Linked DNA regions of Homo sapiens. Each later gene encodes a partner of the first gene's protein in a complex. Each region holds a gene or a part of one and is shown on either strand. Other genes may lie near its edges. The genes, in order: SNIP1, CRNKL1, CWC22 and DHX16.

Region 1 (7,026 bases):
CAAAAAATTAGAAGGGCGCGGTGGCAGGCGCCTGTAATCCCAGCTACTTGGGAGGCTGAGGCAGGAGAATCACTTGAACTCGGAGGGCGGAGGTTGCAGTGAGCCGAGATCACGCCACTGCACTCCAGCCTGGGTGGACAGAATGAGACTCTGTCTCAAAAAAAAAAAAAAAAAAAGAAAGAAAGAAACAAGTCTTATAGATGTAGATCCCCAAGGACTTCATTCATGTACAAAAATGTTGTTGTGTATTCTTGTTTCAAAAAGAAAAAAATGAGACGTTCTTTGCGGAAAGTCCCTGGAGTTTCCTGGTTCAACAGTGCTTGGACGGAACCAGGCACTCGTACCCCACTCCGGCTGGCCGCCCATAGCTAGCCCTCTGTTACCTCTTCACTGGGCCCTCTGACTGTCCCAAGGCCCCCGCCGCCACTCCAGCGCCGTGCAGCCACCGCCGCACAGCCACCGTGGCCACCACCATGACGACTGCGCGTCCCCCTCGCAGGTGCGCCAGAACTACCGCCATCAACCGCCAGATCAACGTGGAGCTCTATGCCTCCTACATCTACCTGTCCATGTCTTACTACTTTGACCACAATGATGTGGCTTTGAAGAACTTTGCCAAATACTTTCTTCACCAATCTCATGAGGAGAGGGAACATGCCAAGAAACTGATGAAGCTGCAGAACCAATGAGGTGGCTGAATCTTCTTCCTTCGGGACTTCAAGAAACCAGACCATGATGACTGGGAGAGCAGGCTGAATGCGATGGAGCATGCATTACATTTGGAAAAACTTGGGAATCAGTCACTACTGGAACTGCACAAACTGGCCACCGACAAAATTACCCCCATTTGTGTGACTTCACTGAAACACATTACCTGAATGAGCAGGGGAAATCCATCAAGAATTGGGTGACCATGTGACCAACTTGCGCAAGATGAGGGCACCCGAATCTGGCTTGGCAGAATATTTCTCTGACAAGCACACCCCGGGGAGACAGTGATAATGAAAGCTAAGCCTTAGGCTAATTTCCCCATAGCCATGGGGTGACTTCCCTGGTCACCAAGGCAGTGCATGCATGTTGGGGTCTCCTTTACCTTTTCTATAAGTTGTACCAAAACATCCACTTAAGCTGATTTGTACCATTCCTTCAAATAAAGAAATTTGGTACCCCCCGCCCCCACCAAAAAAAAAAAAAAAACAAAGAAAAAACTTCTTGTTATGGACTAGGTAAGGTACAAAAATGTTTACAGATAATTAAGGTTAAAAATTTTAAAGCAGAGAGCAGTAAGAGACTTTCAAAATGATTAGGGAGAAAATTAGAATGACACAAAAATTAGCATGGCCCCTAATTTAAAAAATACATAATAATAATAAAAATGATTAGGCAGGCAGGACGCAGTGGCTCCCACCTGTAATCCCAGCACTTTGGAAGGCCGAGGCGGGTGGATCACTTGCGTCCAGGAGTTCGAGACCAGCCTGGGTAACATAGTGAGACCCACCCGCCGCCCTCTCTAAAAATAATAATAAAAATAAAATTAAAAACTAAAAATTTAGGTGACTCCACACCCATTAGGATGGCTACTATCAAAAAACTGAAAATAACAAGTATTGGCAAAGATGTGGAAAAATCAGAACCCTTGTACACTGCTGGTGGGAATGTAAAATGGTATAGTTAGTGCGGAAAACAGTACAGTGGTTCCATAAAAAATTTAAAAATAGAATCGCCATATGATCCAGCAATCCCATTTCTGGATATCCCAAACAAATGAAAGCAGGGTCTCAAATAGATACTTGAGCATCCATGTTCATTGCAGCATTATTCGCAATACCCTAAAAGTGGAAGCACTGGGACTAAGACCCCCCCCCCCCCCGCTCCCTGCCATACACAGGGCTCAAGTGAGGGGCTGCTTGCTTAGAGTGGGACTCAGTTTTTCTAGACTTCCTAGCCTAGCACAGACATGCATCAAGAGAGAGCCTCAGACAACCACCCTTCCTACTCCAAAACATTTACAAGCTTGCCACTGCTATCTGCCTTGAGTTCACCAGGACTAATCTCATCATGTCCTTTATCCCTTATTAAGAGTCATTATAATAAGCCATAACGGCCGGGTGTGGTGGCTTATGTCTGTAATTCTAGCACTTTGGGAGGCTGAGGTGGGTGGATCACTTGAGGTCAGGGATTCAAGACCAGCCTGGCCAACATGGTGAAATCCCATCTCTACTAAAAATACAAAAATTAGCTGGATGTGGTGGCACGTGCCTACAGTCCCAGCTACTTGGGAGGCTGGGGCAGAAGAATCACTTGAACGCCAGAAGTGGAGGTTGCAGTGAGCCAAGATTGCACCACTGCACTCCAGCCTGGGTGACGGAGTGAGACTCTGTTTCAAAAAAAAAGAGAAAGAAAGAAAGAAAAAGTATTGTTTTTAAAAATTCAGTTCCCAATTCCTCTCCTCTGTCTTCCCTTGAACCCCTCCAATCAGGTCTCACCCTTATTACTCCACTAAAATTGCTGGTCAAGATCACCAGTGACCTCCATGTTGCTAAATCCAGTGGCCAATTCTCAGTCTTCATTTCACTTAACTATCAGCAGCATCTAACAGAGTTAATCACTCTATCCTCAACACACTTCCTTCTAATGGCTTCAAGTTACCAGATTCTCTTGCTTCTCTTTCTTTCCAGTCTTCTTTGCTGATGTCACTGCAATTTCTTCACACTGGATCGCCCCTGGATTCAGTCCTTTGTTGGTTGTTCTTCTATCTACAGTCATTTCCTTAGTAATTTTCATCTAATCCTAATACTTTACATACACCTATATGCAGGTGAGTCTCAAATGTTTATCTCTCCGTTATTTAGAAAGAGGGTCACTGCAGATGTAATAAATTAAGGTCATACTGAAGTAATATAGGTCATTAATCCCACGTGACTGGTGACCTTGGAAGAGAAGAGATAGAGAGATTCATGGGAGAAGGCCATGTGATGATGGACAGAGAGTCTATATCATAGTGATTACCTCTGGCAAGTGAGGTGGAGGTTTTTTGGTTGAGGAGGTGGTGCAATTTTGGGGACGAGAGAAGTAAACCATACTCTCATTTTATATTTTACATACCTCTGTATTATTACAATGAGCATGTAATCAATACATTTGTTTCGAAAATGGTGGTTCAGTTGGGTACGGTGGTTCATATCTGTAATCCCAGCACTTTGGGAGGCTGAGGCAGGTGGATCACTTGAGGTCAGGAGTTTGAGACCAGCCTGGCCAACATGGTGAAACCCCGTCTCTACTAAAAATACAAAAATTAGCCGGGCATGGTGGCACGTGCCTGTAATCCTAGCTACTGGGGAGGTTGAGGCACGAGAATCGCTTGAACCCAGGAGGCAAAGATTGCAGTGAGCCAAGATCACACTACTGCACTCTAGCCTGGGCAACAGAGCAACACTTCACCAAACAAACAACAACAACAACCAAAAAAAAACACAAAATGGTGGTTCAGAGGTTGAGAAAAGAATAAAGTAATCATTTGGTATCCTCAGGAGATTGGTTCCAGGATCCCCAGTGGATAAAAAAGATTATCTCAGGGCCAGGTGCAGTGACTCATGCCTGTAATCCCAGCACTTTGGGAGGCCAAGGCAGGTGGATTACGAGGTCAGGAGATGGAGACCATCCTGGCTAACATAGTGAAACCCTGTCTCTACTAAAAAAAAAATACAAAAAAATTAGCCAGGCATGGTGGCGGGCGCCTGTAGTCCCAGCTACTCAGGAGGCTGAGGCAGGAGAATGGCGTGAACCCCGGGAGGCGGAGCTTGCAGTAAGCCGAGATCGCACCACTGCACTCCAGCCTGGGCAACGCAGCGAGACTCCATATCAAAAAAAAAAAAAAAAAAAAAAAGATATCTTAGGATGCTCAAGTTCCTTATATAAAAATCTGTGAATATCCTTCTGTATACTTTAAATCATCACTAGGTTATTTATAATACCTAATACAACGTAAATGCTATATAAATAGTTGTTATACTGTTATTTGTCTTTTAAAATTTGCTTTTTTTTTTAAAACAGTCTTGCTCTGTCACCCAGGCTGGAGTGCAGTGGTGCGATCTTGGCTCACTGTAATCCCCGCCTCCCAGGTTCAAGTGATTCTCCTGCCTCAGCCTCCCAAGTAGCTGGGATTACACGCGCCCACCACCACACCCAGCTAATTTTTGTATTTTTAGTAGAGACGAAGTTTCACCATGTTGGCCAGGCTGGTCTCCTGACCTCAGGTGATCCACCCGCCTCGGCCTCCCAAAGTGCTGGGATTACAGGCATGAGCCACTGTGATCGGCCCAGACTCTAATCCCAGTTACTTGGGAGGCTGAGGCAGGAGAATCCCTTGAACCCAGGAGGCGGAGGCTGCAGTGAGCAGAGATTGCGCCACTCCAGCCTGGGCAACAGAACGAGACTCCGTCTCAAAAAAAAAAGAAAAAAAAAAAAAAAAGACGACTGAATTCTCATCCCTCAAAATTGAGAATAAGGCAAGAGTGTCTGCTCTCATTACTCTTTTATCTCTCCTTGCCTGACGCCATCCGTGTGATTTGCTCCTCCTTGCTTCCCACCATGATTGTGAGGCCTCTCCAGCCATGTGGAACTGTAAGTCCATTAAACCTCTTTCTTTTGTAAATCGCCGGGTCTCGGGTATGTCTTTATCAACAGCATGAAAACGGACTAATGCAAACAACAAAAGGAAATAAAATGCATTCAGATTGTAAAGGAAGAAATAAAACTGTCCCTATTTGTAGATATGATTGTCTACGTAGAAAATCCCAAGTAATCTTAAAAAAAAAAAAAAACTAGAATACATTAGTTCAGCAAGGATATAGGATGAAGATAAACACACAAAAATGAATTATATTTCTATATAGTAACAATGAACATTTGGACACTCATTTAAAATACCCTTTATAATCATTCCACAAAGAAATATGTATAGGATTTATAAGCTGAAAACTACAACCACTGATAAAAGATATCAAAGATGATCTAAATAAAAGGGGAGATACACAATGTTCATGGATTAGAAGATTTAACATAGTAAAAAGTCAATTATTGCCCCCAAACGCCAGTTTAACACAAATCCTATCAAAATCCTAGCAAGACTTTTCTTTCAGATCTCACTCTGTCGCCCAGGCTGGAGTGCAGTGGTATGATCACTGTTCACCGCAGCCTCAACCTCCTAGGCTCAAGTAATCCTCCCACTCAGGAGCTACTCAGCCTCCTGAGTAGCTGGGACCACAGGCATGCCACCACGCCCAACTAATTTTTGTATTTTTTGTACAGATGGGTTTCACCATGTTGCCCAGGCTGGTCTGGAGCTCCTGAGCTCAAGTGATCTGCCCACCTCAGCCTCCCAAAGTGTTGGGATTACAGGCATGAGTCGCTGTGACCGGCCCAGACTTTTTAAAAATAGAGGCAAGATTGTTCTAAAACTTACATGGATGAAAAAAGAAGCTGAATAGCTAAAGCAATTTTTATAAAGAAGACTACAATGGGAAAAATCAGTCCATACAATTTCAAGACTTATTATATAGCTATAGTAATCAAGACTGTGTGGTATTGGCAGAGTGACAGACACTGACAAATGAAACAGAACAGAGATTCCAGAAATAGACCCACACAAATATGCCCAACTGATTTTTGACAAAAGAGCAAAAGTAATTCATTGGAGGAAAGATGGTCTTTTCAACAAATGGTGTTGATGCAAGTGGACATTCATAGGCAAAAAAAACAAAAACAAAACAAAACAAAACAAAACAAAACAAAAACCCTGAAACCCTGAAAAGAAACTGAAAGCAGATCATGGACTTTTAAGAAAAAAAATTTAGGAGAAAATTTCAGAGATCTAGGGCTAGGCAAAAAGTTCTTAGCCATGACATCAAAAGCACAATCCATAAAAGGAAAAACAGATAAGCTGGACTTCATTGAAATTAAAAACTTTTGCTCTGAGATAAACCCTGTTAAGAAAATGAAGACAGCTACAGACTGGGAAAAAATATTTGTAAACCATTTATCCCCAAAGGGCTAGTATCCACAATATAAAAAGAATTCTTAAACACTAAACAGTAAAAAAGCAAATAATAGTATTAGAAAACAGGCAAAAGATAGCTGGGCATGGTGGCTCACTTTGCTGTAATCCCAGCACTTTGGGAGGCTGAGGCAGGTGAATCACCAGAGGTCAGGAGTTCAGGACCAGCCTGGTCAAAATGACGAAACCCCATCTCTACTAAAAATACAAAAATTAGCTGGGCATGGTGGCACGAGCCTGTAATCTCAGCTACTTGGGAGGCTGAGGCAGGAGAATCCCTTGAACCTGGGAGGCTGAGGTTGCAATGAGCTGAGATCGCGCCATTACACTCCAGCCTGGGCAACAAGAGTGAAACTCCGTCTCAAAAAATAAAAAATAAAAAATAAAAAATAAACAGGCAAAAGACATGAGACATTGCACCTGAGAAGATACATATAGATGGCAAATAAGCACATGAAAAGACGTCCAAGGCCAGGTGCAGTGGCTCACGCTTGTAATCCCAGCACTTCGGGAGGCCGAGGCAGGCAGATCACGAGGTCAGAAGTTTGAGACCAGCCTGGCCAACATAGTGAAACCCTTTCTGTACTAAAAATACAAAAAATTAGCTGGGCGTGGTGGTGGGCATCTGTAATCCCAGCTACTCAGGAGGCTGAGGCAGGAGAATCACTTGAACCTGGGAAGGGGAGATTGCAGTGAGCCAAGATCACGCCATTGCACTCCAGCCTGGGTGACACACACACACACACACACACACACACACACTGACACACAAAGAAAAGATGTCCAATATCATAAGCCATTAGGAAAATGCAAATTACGGGAAGCTGAGGCAGGAGAATCGTTTGAACTCAGAAGGCGGAGGTCGCAGTGAGCCGAGATCGTGCCACTGCACTCCAGCCTGGGTGACAGAGCCAGACTCTGTCTCAAAAAAAAAAAAAAAAGGAAAACGCAAATTAAAATCACAATGAAAT
Region 2 (7,026 bases), on another chromosome or scaffold:
TGGTTTGATTACTTGCGCTTGGTAGAAAGTGACGCAGAAGCTGAAGCCGTGAGAGAAGTCTATGAAAGGGCCATTGCCAATGTCCCACCCATTCAGGAGAAGAGGCACTGGAAGCGCTACATTTATCTTTGGATCAACTATGCACTCTATGAAGAATTGGAGGCAAAGGTGAAAAAACAGAATTATGTGTCAGCTGATAATGGTTTCCTGTCTTCTGTATTCACAGCTCACCTATTGTGGATGTTTGTAATTCTTGAAAGAAGGAAATTTAGTTTTAAATTTTTATAGGCTTCTGTTCATCCATACAGTTATATATTCGCTCTGCAACATTTTAAACCCTCTGTGCTTGTTGTGGCCACACGTGAGGGGCTTTTTTAACTTTGGTTTGATTTTTACTTGAGGCACAACAAGATATCACTTGGAGCTTGAAAGAGAACAGTGAACCAGCCCTTAATTTAGTGAAATATAGTTTCCTGGATTTGCTCATTAATAGGAGTAATTCTGGCTAGATTATGCATTTTTGCTTTTAGCAAAAATCAAGTGGCATTTTCAGAAATCATTTGTATTAACCTTCTGGGTTTGATCTGAGACTATGAAACATCTTTGTTTCTTTCTGCCATCAGGCAAAACGGCTTTCTACAAAGAAGGGCTTAGAAGTTTGGTGGCTATCTTGTTGGTGATTCTTAAACTGAAGTTTCATGGCCGTTCATACTTTAGATCATAAATCAGGGTTTGCAAGTAACAACTTGTGAAACATGCTGTTTTGGGGGTGTACATTTTTACCAATATCAGTAAAATTAGTAACTAGTAAAATGAGTGTTAGCAGCAGACTTCAATATTTTGTGAAAATTTCTTATCCTAATACAGGATCCTGAGAGGACAAGACAGGTGTATCAAGCCTCTTTGGAACTAATTCCTCACAAAAAGGTATGTTTGCTCTAAAGTGTTCCATTTCAAACAGGTCAGAATCCTCTTCTGTTACTTGTGAAGTAATTCAGTGAAATAATATTGATTGATAAAATGCTTCCCTGTCCCACCATGGACAACATAAATAAGACTGAGATATGCTCCTTGCCTCTGAAAACAGCTCACAGACTAGGTTGGAGGACAACCTGCATTGACAAACAAATAATATAAATTCAGAGAAGGCTAGGTAATGTGAATAGTCTGAGTGGAAGGAGAAAGACATCCATGCAGAGAGCACACAACGTGTGCGGGGGACACACAGGCGGGTTTGTTGGTAACAGTGAGTGTGTGCATGCACAGATGAATGTGCCCCTTGTGTAGATGGTTGAGATGTTACCTCCGCCTTGTTTCCCAGCACGAGAAACAAAACGTGTTTCCTTCTGTAGAAGTGTTGACTGAGTTACTTTTCAGAATAGAGGTAGGACATTCTGCCCATATACAAGCATGCCTACAAAACAAAGTCTGTTCTGAGCAGAGGCTACCGTGCCATACAGTACAGTACAGTATCTGGATCATGGTTCTCAGGAGAGGTTACCATGCCATGCAGTACAATATAGTATCTGGATCATGGTATGTGGGTTTCTAACTTTTGTGAAATGAATGTGGTCTTTGCTTGTAAATAAGCAGAGTACATTCCTCTTACTCTGAAGTTTTAGAGAAATCGAATTACCAATGGCTTTGGTTAATTTAAATTAATTTTAATTCAATTTAATTTGGATGAGGCTTTTAAGCTAGATATTTTTGTGCTTTTGTTTTCTAGTTCACATTTGCCAAAATGTGGATACTGTATGCACAGTTTGAAATACGACAGAAGAATCTGTCATTAGCCAGAAGAGCATTGGTAAGTAAAGAAAGGATCAAGATGTCTCATCAAGTTCTATGAGAAAGAAATTAAAATCTTGGTGCTTGGAAGTTGTACAGTTCCTACTTTAAAGAGTGACAGAAGTATTATACCTTTATAGCCTGGGACATGTTAGAAAACATGCGTCCTCTGTAAAAACACTGACTAATAATGCGTAAATTATTCTTATTACCTGGGGCAAATTAACATTCTGTTTCAATATTGGAAACTTCTATAGCTACCAGTTACTAAATCTTTCCACAGACTGGAATTAGTAATCTGATCCTGTGCAAACTTTTTGGTGTGTTAAATGCACTTTTAATTGTTCCACTTTTTTTTTCTTTTTTTTTTTTTTGTTTGTTTGGTTTTTTTTTGAGACAGGGTCTCGCTCTGTTCCCCAAGCTGGAATGCAGTAGCGCGATCTTGGCTCACTGCAACCTCTGCCTCCTGGGCGGAAATGATCCTCCCATGTTGGCCTCTCAGAATGCTGGGATTACAGGCATGAGCCACCATGCCTTGTCCTTTTTATTTATAGGAGGTTTTATGCATTTGACATCCCTATTCCCTAGGAGATCCTGAGAAACTTTCAAATCTTATTTTATTTAGTTGCCCAAACAATTCTGGAACACTGCCTCTTGCTGAGTGAATTAGAGGAGTTTCCTTCAGCCTTTTGTCAAGAACCAGTAAACATTGTGATACCACAGAGGGAAAGAATGGTAGGCCATGTTGACTTTGCAAGATTCTTCCTCAGCAGAGAACAGCCTCTAGGGCAGTGCAATAACTGCACAGATTAAATCCACTACAGTATCACAGTGGTCTGGTTATTTTATTTTCCAGGGAACTTCCATAGGCAAATGTCCAAAGAACAAATTATTTAAAGTTTACATAGAATTGGAGCTACAGCTTCGAGAATTTGACAGATGCCGGAAGCTTTATGAAAAGTTCCTGGAATTTGGACCTGAAAATTGTACCTCATGGATTAAATTCGCTGAATTAGAGACAATCCTTGGTGATATTGACAGAGCACGGGCAATCTATGAATTAGCCATCAGTCAGCCACGTTTAGACATGCCAGAGGTGAGCATCTCAAGTCAAATATAATTTTGTTTGAGATACGTGTTTAGTCTTACTTTAGATGACCATCTAAATGTGGGTGTATTTTAGAGTATAACGATGATCTAACTAACTTAGTCTCTTCTACTCAGATTAGGCTTGTACGTGGAAAGGTGGCTGTGGGGGACAGGGGAAGTAGCCCTCTCATTAGATACCAGAGCAGTAGACATCCAGGATGATGCCCAGGATGAACTGGGATATCATGGGGGTGGGTGACGCCCCTTCTGCAGCAGGAAAGCCTAAAGGGGCTGGGGAAGAGGCCAGGCAAGGAAGAAGCCAGCAGGCTGGCCCACCCGGAGAACGAGGGGGATGGAGGTAGGAACTGCACATCCCTGTATTCTCTAAACCAGGATGTCCTTGCAACTTCTGTTGTCACTGTCCTGAAAGTCCTCGCCTGCCTTCAGTAGTTAAGCTTGACCCACAAGGTAGCACCAAACCACAGCTAGGAAAGATTTGAATCTCACATGAGTCGTAGAACTCACCCAGCCGTTTTGTTAATCTCATGCACTAACATGACCCTGCATTTAATGGTTTGGCCCCCTGATTGCATTAATTAAGGCAGGGCTTTGGGTATCACTGAGTTCATCAGTTGTCCTCGGCTCCTCCACCAGACTGCCAGCTTTCAGGTGTCCATGCCACGGTTTATTCATCCTTATTCCCTGCCAGGCTGCACCGAGCCAGTGCGCACCTGTTCAGTGAATGCTTGTTGCACTGAACTCTCATAATAACAAGGAATGTACAGTAGAGGTAAGAACATGCATACTGGCTAACCTGGGCCTGTTTTCTCTCTGGACGCTCAATTGCGTGTGGCTAGAATATGGAGTACCTGGGAGATGCTTGGCAAGTTTCTCAGCTCTTGATAAGTCAAGCATTTGAAAAACTTCCAAAGAGAATCTCTAAGACTGAATCCAAGGCCCTTTTTCTGTAATCTGGAATTCTAGCCAAGTTTTGGCCAGCTTATAGATACCAATGTTATTTATCTTATCCACATGTGTTCTTTAGTTGTTCAGTAAAAATCCTATGTTCCTAGATGTAGGTTAGAGTGATACTTCAGCTGTGCTTTGGATGGGGGCATGCTGCTTTGTAAATGTCAAGACTGACCCATTTACTTTTCTTCCTTAGGTGCTTTGGAAATCATATATTGATTTTGAAATTGAGCAGGAAGAAACAGAAAGAACACGAAACCTTTACCGGCGGTTGCTTCAACGGACGCAGCATGTCAAGGTATCCTTGCTTTGTAGATGATCTTTCATTTTGCTTGAATCAGCAGTCCAGAAGAAAATGATATATTTCTGTATTTTAAGTGTTTGGGTTTTTGTTTTTTTTTTTTTTTTAATGACTTCCTTGCTTTTCAAGAGAAACGTGAGTCTCAGAGGACTTTGGAATGTTTGGAATGTTAAGTTTATACCAGGTCATTGTTTATGCTGCATGTGAGTAGCTTGGGTATCACAAGATTGAAAAAAAGTTAAACTATTTTTTTTTTTTTTGAGACGGAGTCTTGCTGTGTCTCTAGGCTGGAGTGCAGTGGCGTTATCTCGGCTCACTGCAACCTCCGCCTCCCAGGTTCAAGCAATTCTCCTGCCTCAGCCTCCAGAGTAGCTGGGACTAGAGACGCGCACCATAATGCCCAGGCTAATTTTTCTATTTTTAATAGAGACAGGGTTTCACCTGTTGGCCAGGATGGTCTCGATCTCTTGACCTCGTGATCTGCCCACCTCAGCCTCCCGAAGTGCTGGGATTACAGGCGTGAGCCACTGCACCCAGCCAAGTTAAACTCTTTTCAAGAGTTTAAGACTATGTCAGACATTTAATTGTAGAATGTAGAATCAAATATTTTCAGTGTTTATATTGAAGCATATATTCATTGTTTTCATCTGTGAAACATTAGTGATGCACACATTACTTTCCGATGTCATTAACTGGGAATTCGCTTTATTATTACTACATTATTATCTTCTGAGTGATATGGTTAATTTGGTTCAATAATAACTTTTTTTAAAGGTATGGATCAGCTTTGCTCAGTTTGAGTTGTCTTCAGGAAAAGAAGGAAGTTTGACTAAATGCAGACAAATTTATGAAGAAGCTAACAAAACCATGCGAAACTGTGAAGAAAAGGAAGAGAGACTTATGCTGCTGGAATCTTGGCGAAGTTTTGAAGAAGAATTTGGAACAGCTTCAGATAAGGAGAGAGTAGACAAACTCATGCCAGAGAAAGTCAAGAAGAGAAGAAAGGTCCAGACTGATGATGGGGTAAGAACTCTGCCCTGGGACTGTTCATCTCACGTCACATGAGTAGAAACACTTCTGACGTCGAAATGTGGACTTTTAAGTGGCATATGTACAATCTTAGAATGGAAGCAGACCACCTGGAGTAGGAGATGGTTGCAATCTGGCTGTTATGGAAACACGGGGTAGAACATATGGTCCAGTCAGAGGTGGAGAACGGGAAGGGGTTGGCAAAGGTGTTTTGGTGATGGTTGAGTCTGGGAACTTCATGAAGTGTGATATTTTTAGAGCATTTAATAGGAAGTAAGTGTGGAGGAAGATGGAACTGAACTTTCAGATAGGAGCCTATCCAGAGAAGGCTTGTAGGCGGTAAGAAGGAGTTTGGTGGGAGTCAGTGAAGGCTGTTTTGCATAAAATGACGTGACCAGATTGCTAGCCTCTCATCCTGGCAGACTCAAGGGGCTTAGATTGGAGAAAGAAGACCCATCAGGAAGCAGTTTTTATAAGCTGAGCAAGACATGGAAGCTGGAACTAGAACAGGGCCACAGGGCCTGTTAGAACAATATTTGGGAAGTGAAATCAGTGACTGATAGGAGGTGAGGATGGGAAGGTAGGGAGTTGGAATAATAATGCACAGATGTATGGCTTTTGCTACTGGGTGAATATTATGTAAAGATCGTTAAACGTTTTCTTAAGTGTAAGACTGCACAATGTAGTTGGAGACACTGAACATCTTGGTTGGCTATAGAGGAGCTGTGCTTAGATTTTTAGAATGTTTTTCTACCAGTTTAGTTCTCACTGAGCTACAGTTGCTGCTTACTCACTCCCAGTCTTTCAGACCCAGCCCTTGTTCTTTCTGTAGTAGACTTTGATGTTATTTTGTAAAATGGAGGTAATCATCCGGATTTCCAGTAAAAATTCTTCACTCTGATATGTGAGTATATCACCCACGTTTGCTTATCTTTTCATTTTTTATTTCTGTAGTCTGATGCAGGCTGGGAAGAATACTTTGATTACATCTTTCCAGAAGATGCTGCCAACCAACCTAACCTCAAACTCCTGGCCATGGCCAAACTGTGGAAGAAACAGCAGCAGGAAAAGGAGGATGCTGAGCACCATCCAGATGAGGACGTCGATGAGAGTGAATCCTGATCTTTTTTTCATAGACAAATGTTTTGTTATTTTTATAAATTAATTGTTTGGAACTCTTGTGACTCCTGGAAGTTCTTATATATTTCACCAGTAAGAAATTGATTGGTATCTTTGATGGCTACTTTTTAAGTTATTTTTTAAATGCTCTTGGGTTAGCTAGGGGTAGGGATTGCAAGTAAAGGACTTTTTTAACTGCTGGATTTGTTTTTCCAACTGAGTCCAAACTTTTCTAATGTCTGTCCACATCATGCATTAGGAAATGTAATTAAGGTAACATTCTACAGTTACTTTTCATGTCATACCCATAAAGATAGTTTATGCATTCATCTGAAATGTGTAACTTTTTCATGTCTTCAGAGTCACAGACTTGAGTTCATTTCCCAGCTCTGCCACTCATGATTATATAACTTAATTTTCATTTTCCTCATTCACAAAATGGGCCAATAGTTTGACAGCTCATTTTGAAGATTACATTATAAAAGGAATATACCTGGTGGGTGCATAGTAAGTGCTCAGTAAATTGTTTGTTCTAAGCCACTTTTAAAAATGGTTTCATTCCTTGTAGAATTGAATGCGAGTGGATTAATAATTTACCTTACTTTCTTACTAGTGTCCAGTTATATTGTTTTTTAGAACAACACTTGGAAAATAATTTGCAGTGATTATATTTCTGAACAAGGTTCAGAAAACATTGTTTACTAAGAATTTAGTCTAATAATTTCAGTTAG
Region 3 (7,026 bases), on another chromosome or scaffold:
ACAGTTGACTAAATAAATAAATGAGGGAAGAGGGACAATACTTTCTTATAGAAGAAATTCAATTACTAGATGTAGAAGAAAACAGACAAATAAAAAATCACCATTAGGTGATTTTTTAACCATCCAAAGATGGATGTTAAAATTAGTGAGTAAAAGCTGGAGGAAAAAGAGATTTGCATAGTATCAAGTTACCTCCCTACAAGACATTTTCACAGAGAAAAATAGTTTCCCTGAAGACATCCAGTGGACACCACCTTACTCAAGTGATCAAGGTTGTCACCCAAAATAAAATTATGAACCTCTTGATAAGATGCACTAAGAACAACACATTGTTTCTAATGTACTCTTGCCAAAAATGTCTAATCTCATTCTAATAAGGAGAAAACATCAGACGAAACTCCATACTGAGGGACAGGTTACAAAATAAGTGACCAGAGGACTTCAAAAGTGTTAAAGCTATTAAGAACAAGGAAAGCCCGAGAGGAACTATCATAGAATGCAGAAAACTGAGAATACAATTAAATGCTAGCAGAATCCTGAAATAAGAAAAACGACATTAGTGGTAAAACTGGTTTTCAAATCACATCTGTAGTCTAGTCAATAATGCTGTTCCAATGCTAATTTCCTAGTTTGATAAATGAACCAGTGTTATGTAAGATGCTACCATTAGGGGAAGTTGGAATGAAGAGTATATGGAAATTCTCTGTACTGTTTTTGCAACTTTCCTAAATCTAAAATTAGCTCAGAATAAAAGGTTACAGTTACAAAGTAAAAAATATAAAGGCATCAGAGAGCTAGTGGAAAAACAAGTACTAGAGGGGCCAAGATGCAGGAGAAAGCAGAAACATTGAGAAGTAAGTGATGTTCTACAGCTACTTTCTCCCTGGGAGCATCTGCTGATTCAGGGATGCTACTGAGGGACAGAGACACCAGAGGTCTGGTAGCCTTGCAGGGCTAGAGAGACAAGAATGGGACTGGTTATTTGCAATACATATATGTACAAAAGATATCATATCTAGAATATGTAAAGAAAACCTACAAATCAACAGAGAAAACAACTTAACTAAAAAAAATTGGTAAAATACTTGAACAGCCACTTGACAACAAAAATCCAAATGGCCAATAATGGATAAAATGGCATTTAACTTCTCTAGTTGAAATGCAAATTAAAACTAAAACCGCCATGCAGTACCATTACACATCCACCAGAATGGCTGAAATGAAAAAGACGGTCAATTTGAAGTATTAATGAGAATGGGAGCTAATGAAACTCTTATACATGGCCGGTGGGAGTGTAAATAGGAATAACCACTTGGAAAACTGACAGTATTCACCAAAGCTAAATATATGCACATCTTATGACACACTGACTCCACCTATAGGTACATACCCAGTAGAAATGTGAATAAATAAATAAGGTCATCAAAAGATATGTACAAGAATATACATGGAAATATCACTTGAAAATCTAAAGTCTGTTGAGCAAAAATGATAAATATATATTGTGGTATATTCATATAGTAGGAAACTACATAGCAATATTACTGAATTAACTATAACTAAATGCAGTAATGCATCTAAATCTCACAAACATAATGGTAAAAAAATAAGCCAGACATAAAAAGGAGTCCATAATACATAATGCTAAAGGTAAAAACAGGCACAATTAATTTATGAAATTACAAATCAGAATAGTAGCTGCCATGAGGATGGAAGGAGTAGTAACTGGGAGAGGAAACACAGAGAACTTCTGGGGTACCGGTATATCTTGATTTGTGTGCTAGCTATGAGGATGTGTTCCCTTTATAAAAATTCATATAGCATCTGAGATCCACAATGAATGTATGATATATCTCAATTACAAACAGCTTTAATATTAAAAGTAAAAAACTAAAATTTATTTAAAATAAAAACATCAGGATAGCTCCTATAAACTAGATTACAAACATTATGAATGGATGGTTCATATCAGTCATCACTCAGATAAGTATCTGCGAATGAAATATTTTCATTTCTATGATGAGGATGTCAAAAGGTAATCCCAGCATTATAAATGTTGTATTACAGACTGCAAGAATGATAGATGGGACCATTTGTATTAATTGTGGCTTTTAAACAACTGATCTCTAAGACAAATAAACAATCAAATTATTTTCTTCCTTCATATATATCAGCAACATATTTATTAGAAAAGAGCAAGCCAAATTACACATAAGCTTCAATACCTGAGGCAGAGCTATGACTACTGATGGATGAAGAGTCGCTCTCTTCACTGGAAGACTCTGAACTGCTATCACTGCTGTCAGAATCAGAGTCGGATGAGTCAGACTCTGAAGAGGAGGACGCTGAAGAGGAAGAGGATGGGGAGGATTTATTTTGCTCAACATCTGGTTTCTGCGCCACAATGACCTTTGGTGTATTTTTGAGATGCTCCCGCAGTTCATCCCTAATTTAAAATATAATCTGTTAGATTCTATTTCAAAGACAATTATGAGATAATTTTATAATCTGAACATAAATTCTGAGAATAATCCTTACGTTAAACCTCCAAGACCTATAGAAGTAAAGAAGTTGATGGCAAACCGAGTGTTTCTTGGATTATCTCGGGGTAATAATCCTTCAAAGAATGGCTGCAGAGTTCTAAAAAGGAAAAAAATAAACAAAAGAGAACACATTGCTTAAAGATAAAAAGGTAAAATCCTTAGTCATTTTTCAGATTTTTCATATATTAAATTACTAAATGAAATACAACCAAGTAACTAGTTGATGTCATTTATTAGGTTAGGCTACGTGCTATCTAAATGAAATGAGTAGGGTCAAGTAATAATGTACCAAACTTGATTTCTATCATTATACAATGTAGGAGGTTTTTAAAAAACTTTTTTTACACACACACATATAGAAAGATAAATATATACACATATATACACGTGTGAATATATATAGTGTATATATATACACACACGTATATATAGTGAATATATGTACAAAAAATTTTAAAAACCTTCTCTGTTGTGTATGTACACGTACACACACATACATAGAACTGTGCCAAGTACTGGGGGAGAGGTGGAAGTCATCAACAAAAGGGAGAAATCAAGGATGAAGACCATATAATTACAATATATATGGAGTGAGACAACCAGAAAGACACTAACAATACAAGGTGGTTTTGGACATTTGGTTTTCAGCACCACACTGAGTAACTACTCAGTGGAGTCAGAAAAAACTTTCTCACAGAAAAAGGTACAATATAAGAAGAATGATTAAGAGTTTCCCAGATAGATCAATAAGACAGGAGAATGCCAGCAGTGGAAACTGAGGTAAGGAAGCATGAAAGAGCCAGATATGTTTAACAAGCTTGGCAGTGTTGGTATGGCTGGAGTGCAGCTTGCTGAAGAGAGAGAAGACGAGCCTGGTCAAGTAGACAGGGACCAAATAAGTAAGTATATGAAGCCAAGAGAAGTGGATGGAATAGTCCAGAGACAGTGTGTGGAACCCAGGAACACTGAAGAGGCAGGCTGAGGAGAAGACTGAGAGAGGAAGTGAGAAGAAAGTATGGAGCCACAGTGAGTAGGTAGTCAACTGCATAAGTGAGGCAGAGAAGTGAAGAGGCATGCAGCCTGAGAAAGACAACTGAATATGGCAGGTGGTCACTGAGAAATCTGAAAGGATGATTTCAGTAGTGTCAATGGAGTAGAAGTCAACCTAAGTGGCAATCTGAACAAACAGGAAATAAGAAAGGTGAGAGGGGATTACATAATAATCCTGAAATAAGGCTCTAGTTCTATGTAATATTTTGAACAATTATTAATAGATGAAATATATACTCAAAACTGTCCACTGATAATATTAGTTATCATTCTAAGGCTTAAAATTAGGGTAAAAAGAAAATAAAATTATAAATATCACTGGAGAATTCAAGTGAGCATACAAAAACAATTCTGTATTTTCTAAGAAAATCTAAAAAGGCATTAATTTGAACTCCACTTAAACTAAAAACCACCACTAAAAGTTGCATGTTGTCCTGTGTGACATAACATGAAATTCACAGTGATTAATGGATGAAGAAAGTCTCAGGGGGCTTAGCTCTTGTTTTTACAGTCTCGGATGGGCTTATGTCTGCTACAATGGGAGAAAACCAGAGGTCAATAAGAATAAAAAGTGCTTAATGGCAAACTTACTCATCCTTTAATCTTGCATTAAGTTTAGGAAGACCCATGTATTCACACAGTTCCTGGAAAAATATTTTGACAAAAATTCTACTGGATGATGTAGTGGTTTCTTCACTCAGTTTTATACATTCAAGAACCTGAAAATTAAAATAAAAAAAGACAAGTATATTTTAATTTATAAAAGACAGGACATAGTGACCAATATTTGTAGGTTTAAGTGTTTCTCAAAATTACTATTTATTCCCATCTTCAACCAGAGTTATCTCTGAATATCTCCCCTTATGCTGACATAAAGTTTAAAACTACTTCTCTATACTAACTTTCAAAATGTTAAGATGCGACAGAAATAGATTTCATTCTCTGTTTTGAGTAATGTGCTTTTTATAGCAGGGAAGATATCCTCTCTTGAGCATATAATGGTAAAGATTACTAGCTCCTAAACCTTACTCATCAAAATGTGGTGTATATGAAGGTTTGGGGCAAAATGCCACTTAGCACATTAGGCTACAATTTTGTTTAGCACACATAACATACGATTTAAAAAAAGACAGAAAGTATAATGGTTTATTCTGAATATTAAGACTGTGGCTTAAAAACTGAAATGCCTAAAGAAATATTTTTAGGGAAAATAAAAATAAAAGTAACCTCTAGTTTTTATGGGTTATGTGTTTGGGGGGCCCATTAGTTGGTTAATTGTTTAAAATTCTCACTTCATTTTCTCAAAGAGGGGAAAAAAGAAGTCAAAAATTATTACAATTAGTCTCCTAGGTTAGATTACGAATGCCTATTAATGTAGCTGGACATACTTGGTACTTAAAGTACTATAAAAATCTAACCAATGTTTTTAAGTTTGAGATATTGCCTCATTCTACCATTAGTAGGATGGCATTCTACAAGATAATCCTGTTCTTTCCTCCTGGATGTAATTTCTCATCCTTCTCTCTTTCTTTCTTTCAAATTCCTTTAGTAATTTTGCTTTTCTTAGAATCTAAGACTTTTTATTTTGTATCATTGCTATGGGCATATCTTACCTCTGGTCTTATACTGTAACCCTCTTGAAAGGAGGGGCCATGTATAATTCACTCTGAATACACAGCACCTCTCTCAATGACTCAGTATATAAGTGGTGGCTAACTAACACTGGTTGAAAAACAGCTGTAAAATCAATGCCAGCTTAATGAACGCCTTTCAAATTTCAATCCAGTGCACATTTCCCTATCAAGAATATATCTTTCTTTGTTCTATGACTATAGGATATCCTCTCTATAGCTTACCCAACTTCAATGTCTGCTAAAAAGAACACATCCTTCTAGAACAATCATTTTTTCTCAAACCCAACAAGAGAACCATGGAGAGTTATTCCCTCAGGAATCAAGGGAGAGTAATTCAGAGACACATTTACCACCAAAATAGTGGCATATGTGGATGTGAGTGTGCATGCACGTGTGTGTACACAGAGAAGATGAAAATCTGCAGTACTTTTCCTGAAGACACTCCTAGCCATCACTATCGAAACACTGGCATGTTTGGACTGTTAATATAATACAAAGATAGTATTTCTTGTATATTATTTACCTAGCTTTCTGATTCCTTATAACATGATGATAATCTCAAAGACAGCAGTTCTACACATTTCATTTTAAAGCACATTTCATAATAGGATAAATATGGCTAGCTTATACGAAAATCTATTTGAGAACAGGGAATTAGGAAGGAAGTATAAATATTGACCCATGTACTTACACTCCATGGAAGTGAATCAGTGTATAAAAGGTGAGCAAACATCTTAGCAACATTTCGCAACTTGTTTGTTTCCAAGCGATGGATGGTATCATACTGTTCTTTGAATATACCTTCAAAGGATTCCATGTACTCTTTCTTTAGCATGCAAAATCGCTAATAAATAAAAAATCAGTACCATTAAAAATTGAATGTTAATACAATTATGAGCATATTAAATCCTAAATTTACTGAATCAAAACTTTATTAATATGCTTTATATTTTCAAAGAGCATATATCACTAAATCCTTTTGTGCCATATGATGCTCAAAAAAGAAGTTAATATATATGGTTTCTAATTACCTGAGATTTACATGTTAAAACAAAATCATACATGTAGGTGATCACATGAGGGTAGAGCTTAAAGAAATATTTTAGATCATGCTTTAATTGTGCTGCCTGAACATGTACTTGACTTTAGACACTGCTTTGAGATTTTGAAAAGACAGCATTTACTTGTCGTCTATTGGGAAATCATTACAAATCATGGAAAATTCCAAAAAGCTCTGGAAAAGTGATATGCAAAGTTAAAGCACTGCAAAAATGAAGTAGAAAAAGAGGAAGGTGAAGAGAGTGGGAAACCTGAGGAAGGAGAGAATAATTTGCTTTTAGCAAAAGTGGTAATATGTTTTTAAATGAGACCAGACCATAAAGCAGAAATCATTAATTTACAATATTCGTTTTAAGAATTCCCTCAGTAGAGGCTGGAACTCACCCCAGCTAATAAGCCAAAAAATTTTTCGTATGTCCTCTGTTGGGCACAGCAATCAAGTATCATGTTGCAGAGTTCTTTCTATTTGGGAAAAAAAATACATTAATGATTCAAAACACAAAGAGACTAAATATTGTATAATTTACCAGTATGATAGTGACTGCCTGCATTTTTAAATAAGGGTTTAAAACAGTTCAAAAATTTTGTAAATAAAATAAAAACCTCAATCTATGTTAAACTCATCATTTTTTACAGGCTTGGGTCTGGCTGACAGCTTCCACAGTCATTTATGCTAATTACATTAATTATAAAATTCTAAATTCATGATAAGTATGAACCACATCAAGAAAATCTAGTAT
Region 4 (7,026 bases), on another chromosome or scaffold:
TCTTCATACCCTTGTTTGTATAACCCTGAATGACAAAGAAAAAAGAAGAAGTTTGCCCTTTACTAAATATGCACCCTGGGACCAGGTACATTTCAGAGAAAGAAGTTGTAAAAACCAGGCAGGAGAAAAGGAGGAAAAGACAGATGCTGAAAACCAGAAAAGAAGGGCAAATAGATAGGATGACAGACCTAGGGCCCTCAAAGGGGGTCCTCACCCAGCTCTGGGTAATTAAGTTCATGACTCTGCTAGACTTGAGCTGGAAAAGAACAGATTAGCTGAGACAGAGCCAGCTAAGGTAAAAAAGCAGGAAGGCTGGGCACAGTGGCTCATGCCTGTAATCCTAGTACTTTGGGAGGCTGAGGTGGGAGGATGGCTTGAGCTCAGGAGTTCGAGACCAGCCTGGGCAACATAGTGTGACAAAAAAATTAAAAATTCAAAATTTTGACCAGGCACAGTGGCTCACACCTGCAATTCCAGCACTTTGGGAGGCCGAGGCAGACGGATCTCCTGAGGTTGGGAGTTCGAGACCAGCCTGGCCAAAATGGTGAAACCCCGTCTACTAAAAATACAAAAAATTAGCCGAGCATGGTGGTGCATGCCTGTATTTCCAGCTACTTGGGAGGCTGAGGCAGGAGAGTCGCTTGAACCTGGGAGACAGAGGTTGCAGTAAGCCAAGATCATGCCACCGCACTCCAGCCTGGGCAACAGAGCAAGACTCTGTCTCAAAAAAAAAAAAAAAAAAATTTCAGGCCAGGCACAGTGGCTAACACCTGTAACTCCAGCACTTTGGGAGGCTGAGGTGGGCAGATCACGAGGTCAGGAGATTGAGACCATCCTGGCCAACATGGTGAAACCCCATCTCTACTAAAAATACAAAAATTAGCTGGGTGTGGTGGTACGCACCTGTAGTCCCAGCTACTTAGGAGGCTGAGGCAGGAGAATCACTTGAACCCAGGAGGTGGAGGTTGCAGTGAGTCAAGATCGCGCCACTGCACTCCAGCCTGGTGACAGAGCAAGACTCCACCTCAAAAAAAAACAAAAAATGTTTAATATGGGCATGGTGGTGTGCACCTCCCAGATACTCAGGAGGCTGAGGTGGGATGATCTCTTGAGCCCAGGAGTCCCAGGTTGCAGTGAGTCATGATGGTGCCACATCACTCCAGCTTGGGCATCAGAGCAAGAGCCTGTCTCCAAAATAAGGCAGGGGCTAGGCACAGTGGCTCACACCTGTAATCCCAGCACTTTGGGAGGCTGAGGTGGCTGGATCACTTGAGGTCAGGAGTTCGAGAGCAGCCTGGCCAACATGGTGAAACCCCATCTCTACTAAAAAATTAGCCAGGTGTGGTGGCGCATGCCTGTAATTCCAGCTACTCTGAAGGCTGACGCAGGAGAATTCCTTGAACCCAGGAGTCAGAGGTTGCAGTAAGCCAAGATCGCACCACTGCACTCCAGCCTGGGTGACAGAGCAAGACTCCGTCTCCAAAAAAAAAAAAAAAAAACTAACAAAAAGGCAGGAAAATAGTCCTTTAACTCCTTGTTTTTTGGCCACGTTGGAGCATAGGGAGGTCCACATTTATACACGCCCCACTCCACCTATCCATCTACCCGTCCTTCCAAATGAAATGAATGCAGGAAGTGAGAACAGAAATGTGAAAAGGGTATGGTCTTTACTCTCAAGAATTTCACAATTTAGTGGAAAAGATAGGTAAGTGACTACTAAAAATATAATGTAAAAGGAGCTCTGACAGGAATGAGGACATTGATGCCAGGTGCCCTGGCAAGCTGAAGGGTGAGATGACTGTACCTCCTCAAAGAGATACTGCGGGATCTGGGTGGTCTTCCCTGAGCCTGTCTCGCCTTCAATGATGAGGACTTGGTGATTTGCAATAGCAGCCAGGAGCTCCTCTCGAAATGGGAACACCGGGAGGCTGCGGCGGACGGCCTGGATGGACTCTTTCTGCTGGGCCTGAGTTGAAGTGGGTGGAGCTGACGGCTCCTAAGGAAAGAGAAGGAGGTGTGAGCTAAATAGCTCGCTACGGGTCTTCCTCAGAAAGTCTCCCAGCTCCCCTCTTACCTCATCACCCTGGAGCTGAGTGGCCCGGACAAACTCAATGGTCTCCTCCTCCTCCAGCACCAGTTGATACTTGGGCTCCTGAGAGGCAGCATCTCGGGCCCCAAACTTCAGGGACGCTGCCCCAAGCCGCGCCTCCTCCCAGCGCCGCTGCTCCTCCCCAGGGGCTCCTGATTCCTCCTCCACTAGATCCACAGCTCGGGCTGGCTACAGAGAGAGGGGATATGTGAAGACTCAAAAACAGGATGTCCTCTCTGCCCTCTCCCCTCTTCCCATTACTACCCCCGCCCACTGCCCATTGGGAACGGCAAGGCAAGAAAGGGGATGACCCACGTGTTGCCCAATCCCCTGAAGCCTTCCCCACAACTTGTCTTGGGGACCAAGGCTGAAGCAGACGCCGCTTCACCTCACCTGTCCTCGGGTTTCCTTGGGCATGTGGTAGCGATTGGTGGCCTCCAGCTTCTCCTGCTCCCCAGCTGCCCGGTACTCCCGGGCGAGATCCCGCACTCGCCGCTTATATTTGAGCTCCTGCCGCTCGTGCCGGCTCAGCTCCACGTCCCCAAAAAGGAACTCCTCATCAGCCAGCTCCGCCTCCAGGTCCTCAAGCTTCTCTCGCTCCCGCTTAGCCAGGTACTCTCGGCGAGATTTCTTCCGCAGCTCAGGGACCTGAGTTGGGAAAGGACAGTCGAATCCTCATCTTGCTGGAGGAGCAACCCCTTTCTCTACCAATCCCTACAAGGGAAAAATCCCCTGACAGGCAGGCATGAGAACCTCAGGATGCACCCTCTACCTTCCCTCTGCAATGCACAACCAAAACAATGACATACTCAAATCTGGGCCTCTTTGGATGCTACATGCTGACCCCACATCGTATCTTCCTGCAGCAGAATCCAGCTGGAAAGTCCTCTTAGGCAGCATTATCATCTTTGTTAATATAGATGCACTAGGGAGATGTCTGCGTAGCTTATATTTTACTCTTGCCATTTTATTCAAATTAGTGGAAAGGGGGAAAATAAAAGGCTAATCCAGCATTTAGAAGCACAGGACTCAAACCGAAAACAATTCAGACAAAGATAGAAACCAGTGAGGGGGCCAACAGGAGGCAATCTTCAGCCCCAGTTAGATGTTCTTTGGTCTTAAACGGAATGACTGTAGTTTGAGGAAGGGAGAAAAACTGATTATAAAAAGTTAGGACTACAGCATCAGAGTGTTTCTGTAAGGCAAATGTAATCAGGGATGTTTGGCTTTCTGGTACTAACCTCTCTTCACCATGCTGTGTCTCACTTAGTTTCTACACATTTACCTTTGATACAAACTTTTCAGGACACATTATGGATGACAGCAGAAAACTGGCAATATCTATAAGGCCCTTTCCTGCCAGGAGTCCTCCCACTATGACATCATCCTCTCTGTGATCACAACTTCCTCTACTGCAAGGTCAAAGCCCCTCTGGTGGCTGGGTGGGCGTGGTGACTCACACCTGTAATCCCAGCACTTTGAAAGGCTGAGGTGGGTGGATCACCTAAGGTCAGGAGTTAGAGACCAGCCTGGCCAACATGGTGAAATCCCGTCTCTACTGAAAATACAAAAATTAGCTGGGCATGGTAGTGGGCACCTGTAATCCCAGCTACTCGGGAGGCTGAGGCAGGAGAATCATTTGAACCCGGGAGACGGAGGTTGCAGTGAGCTTAGCTCACGCCATTGCACTCCAGCCTGAGCAACAAGAACAAAACTGCATCTTTAAAAAAAAAGCCCCTCTGCTGTTCTACCCTTAAGGGGCCTGGTTCTATTTAGTTGTTTGGCTTTTCTTGTTTGTTCTGTAAAGACTTAAAATGCAGTTTATGATCATGACCTAATCTGGGTACCACAGTCAAATATTCCTTCCATGGAAGAGCCAGATAGATTTTTTTTTTAATATGGGCAAAAAATCAGAGCCATTTGAGCATTAAAAAGAATAATGATGTGAGATTATAAAATACTGAAAAATAAAAATTCATGAGTCCAATTTGACACACACAAACAAAAAACAAGGGAAAAAAATCTGTCACCAGTGAAATGACTGTTACAGCAAACGCCTTACTCTAAAAATTCGTATTTAAAAGGAAACAAACATTTACCCTTTTTAAGAAGGAACTGTAGCTTGTTCCTAGTTGTTGAGGAAAAGCTCTTCTTTATAGACAAATTCTAGCCAATACACGTAACAGGAATGACAGAATCAAAAAATCACCATTTCGGCCGGGCGCGGTGGCTCACGCCTGTAATCCCAGCACTTTGGGAGGCTGAGGCAAGAGGATCACGAAGTCAGGAGATCGAGACCATCCTGGCTAACATGGTGAGACCCCATCTCTACTAAAAATACAAAAAATTAGCCGGGCGTGGCAGCAGGCGCCTGTAGTTCTAGCTGCTCAGGAGGCTGAGGCAGGAGAATGGCATGAACCCGGAAGGCAGAGCTTGCAGTGAGCCGAGATCGCACCGTTGCACTCCAGCCTGGGCGACAGAGCGAGACTCTGTCTCAAAAAAAAAAAAAAAAAATCACCATTTTGCAATCCCCAATAAAAATAACATGTTCAGGAAAGGATTACCAGTGGCTTCTAAAAGCATTTGATGAAAGGCTATTGGTAGAAAGGATATTAATACTAATATATAGATACACAACTGGATAGTATGTCCCCGTGATATGACATAATATGAAGTGCACATCACCGCCCAAGAAGTGTTCCTGCCACAACTGTTTAATCTGAGTGTCAATAAGCTTTAGACCCAATTCCTGCTTCAAAGAAAGCACAGGGCAGAGAAGTACTTAACACCACAAGATAAGAATCAGGCAAATCCAGAATGTAGGACACTGCAAGGTGAGACAGACAGAGAGAGAAACAAACTTAACATCTAAGACCCAAATGCAATGCATGAACCTTGACTGCATTCTTGTTAGGAAAAAGCAGTCATTAAAGTTATTTTGAGGGTAATGAGGGTATCTTTTATTGTAGAGAGATCTTAGTCGATACATAAGAATTACTGTTCAACTTCCTGACTGTGACAAGAGCATTCTGATTTTAGAGGACAATATCTTTATCCTTAGCAGGTACACACTGATGTACTTAGAGATAAAACGCCATGATGTCTAAGACTCTTTTAAATGGTCTGAAAAGAAAAAACATACCACATTTACAATTACAATGCAAATACTACCCATAGTATTAACCATTTTTCAATCTGAATAGTGTCTATGAGTGTTCTTTGTTCTATTCTTTCAACTTCCCTATGTGCTTAAATATTTTTGTAATCGAAAAAGAAAAATTACAGCTGGGCACAGTGGCTCACGCCTGTAATCTTAACATTTTGGGAGACCGAGGGGGGTGGATCGCCAAAGGTCAGGAGTTTGAGATCAGACTGGCCAACATGGTGAAACCCTATCTCTACTAAACATACAAAAATCAGCCAGGCATGCTAGTGCATGTCTGTAGTCCCAGCTGCTCGGGAGGTTGAGGCAGGAGAATCACTTGAACCCGGGAGGCGGAGGTTGCAGTGAGCCGAGATCATGCCACTGCACTCCAGCCTGGGCGACAGAATGAGATTCTGTCTCAAAAAAAACCCGAAAAATTAAATTCAGGCCAAAACAGTAACACCACTACCACCACAACTGCACTGAGATGTCCCAGAAGCCTAACCACAGTCAATTTCAGGAAGAGATATGAGATAAATTGGTCAGGAGAGACCTGGGAACCAGTAGGCCATTCTTAGAACTCCAAAAGTTGGCCGGGCACGTGGTGACTCACGCCTATAATCCCAGCACTTTGGGAGGCCGAGGCAGGTGGATCACCTGAGGTCAGGAGTTCAAGACCAGCCTGACCAACATGGAGAAACCCCATCTCTACTAAAAATACAAAATTAGCCAGGCGAGGTGGCTCATGCCTGTAATCCCAGCTACTCTGGAGGCTGAGGCAGGAGAATCGCTTGAACTCGGGAGGTGGAAGTTGCAGTGAGCCAAGATCACGCCACTGCACTTCAGCCTGAGCAACAAGTGCAAAACTCTGTTTCAAAAAAATAAATAAATGAATTTTAAAAAGTAAAAACGGCCAGGCGTAGTGGCTCATGCCTATAATCCCAACACTTTGGGAGGCCAAGGCGGGCAGATCACAAGGTCAAGAGATCAAGACCATCCTGGCCAACATGATGAAATCTCCTCTACTAAAAATACAAAAAATTAGCCGAGTGTGGTACTGCAGGCCTGTAGTCCCAGCTACTCAGGAGGCTGAGGCAGGAGAATCGCTTGATTCCTCCACCAGGGAGGCACAGGTTGTAGTGAGCTGAGATCGCACCACCACACTCCAGCCTGGCAACAGAGTGAGACTCCATCTCAAAAATAAATAAATAAAAATAAAAAATAAAACAAAACAAATAAAAAGAAGGCTGGGCATGGTGGCTCACGCCTGTAATTCCAGCTCTCTGGGAGGCCAAAGCAGGTGGATCACAAGGTCAGGGGTTCGAGACCACCCTGGCCAACATGGTGAAACCCCGTCTCTACTAAAGGTACAAAAAATTAGCCAGGCGTGGTGGTGTGCGCCTGTAATCCCAGCTACTCAGGAGGCGGAGGTTGCAGTGAGCCGAGATCGCATCATTGCACTCCAGCCTCGGTGACAGGGCAAGACCCCGTTTCAAAAAAAAGAAAAAAGGTTTAAAAAAAAAAAAAAAAAAAAAAAGGAACTTCAAGAGTCTCAAAATTCTATTGGGGTATTGGGGAATCTAAGTGTGACTTTACTTGACAAGACCAGGCCTTTGGAAAACAGCTTACCCTACCTAGTTTCACACCATAAAAAGTCCAGTTTATGAATTACAAGGGCTCTGTCCCTGTCCAGTGAGAAGACACAGGGAGATCACAAAGCCACATAAGGGGTGCAGGAATTAGGTGGTGGGAAGGTATTTGGAGATGGTGTGCCTAAGCTGAATGGTCAGCA

The links.
Region 2: SNIP1 (region 1) and CRNKL1 share a complex: the UniProt entries of both Homo sapiens proteins name them as parts of the minor spliceosome.
Region 3: SNIP1 (region 1) and CWC22 share a complex: the UniProt entries of both Homo sapiens proteins name them as parts of the minor spliceosome.
Region 4: SNIP1 (region 1) and DHX16 share a complex: the UniProt entries of both Homo sapiens proteins name them as parts of the minor spliceosome.

What each region holds. Positions count from the first base shown.
Region 1 is NC_000001.11:37,544,290-37,551,315, forward strand, and holds part of SNIP1 (smad nuclear-interacting protein 1), read right to left. Parts: intron 1,170-7,026; exon of another isoform or gene 274-1,169; intron 1-273. UniProt on the Homo sapiens protein: Required for pre-mRNA splicing as component of the spliceosome. As a component of the minor spliceosome, involved in the splicing of U12-type introns in pre-mRNAs. Down-regulates NF-kappa-B signaling by competing with RELA for CREBBP/EP300 binding.
Region 2 is NC_000020.11:20,035,467-20,042,492, reverse strand, and holds part of CRNKL1 (crooked neck-like protein 1), read left to right. Parts: coding exon 1-168; intron 169-867; coding exon 868-927; intron 928-1,726; coding exon 1,727-1,807; intron 1,808-2,644; coding exon 2,645-2,884; intron 2,885-4,042; coding exon 4,043-4,144; intron 4,145-4,921; coding exon 4,922-5,170; intron 5,171-6,130; coding exon 6,131-6,298; 3' UTR 6,299-7,026. UniProt on the Homo sapiens protein: Involved in pre-mRNA splicing process. As a component of the minor spliceosome, involved in the splicing of U12-type introns in pre-mRNAs.
Region 3 is NC_000002.12:179,948,287-179,955,312, forward strand, and holds part of CWC22 (pre-mRNA-splicing factor CWC22 homolog), read right to left. Parts: intron 6,749-7,026; coding exon 6,671-6,748; intron 6,072-6,670; coding exon 5,919-6,071; intron 4,313-5,918; coding exon 4,185-4,312; intron 2,641-4,184; coding exon 2,539-2,640; intron 2,447-2,538; coding exon 2,226-2,446; intron 1-2,225. UniProt on the Homo sapiens protein: Required for pre-mRNA splicing as component of the spliceosome. As a component of the minor spliceosome, involved in the splicing of U12-type introns in pre-mRNAs. Promotes exon-junction complex (EJC) assembly.
Region 4 is NC_000006.12:30,662,997-30,670,022, forward strand, and holds part of DHX16 (pre-mRNA-splicing factor ATP-dependent RNA helicase DHX16), read right to left. Parts: intron 4,332-7,026; exon of another isoform or gene 4,189-4,331; intron 3,818-4,188; exon of another isoform or gene 2,899-3,817; intron 2,738-2,898; coding exon 2,483-2,737; intron 2,279-2,482; coding exon 2,075-2,278; intron 1,997-2,074; coding exon 1,805-1,996; intron 26-1,804; coding exon 1-25. UniProt on the Homo sapiens protein: Required for pre-mRNA splicing as a component of the spliceosome. Contributes to pre-mRNA splicing after spliceosome formation and prior to the first transesterification reaction.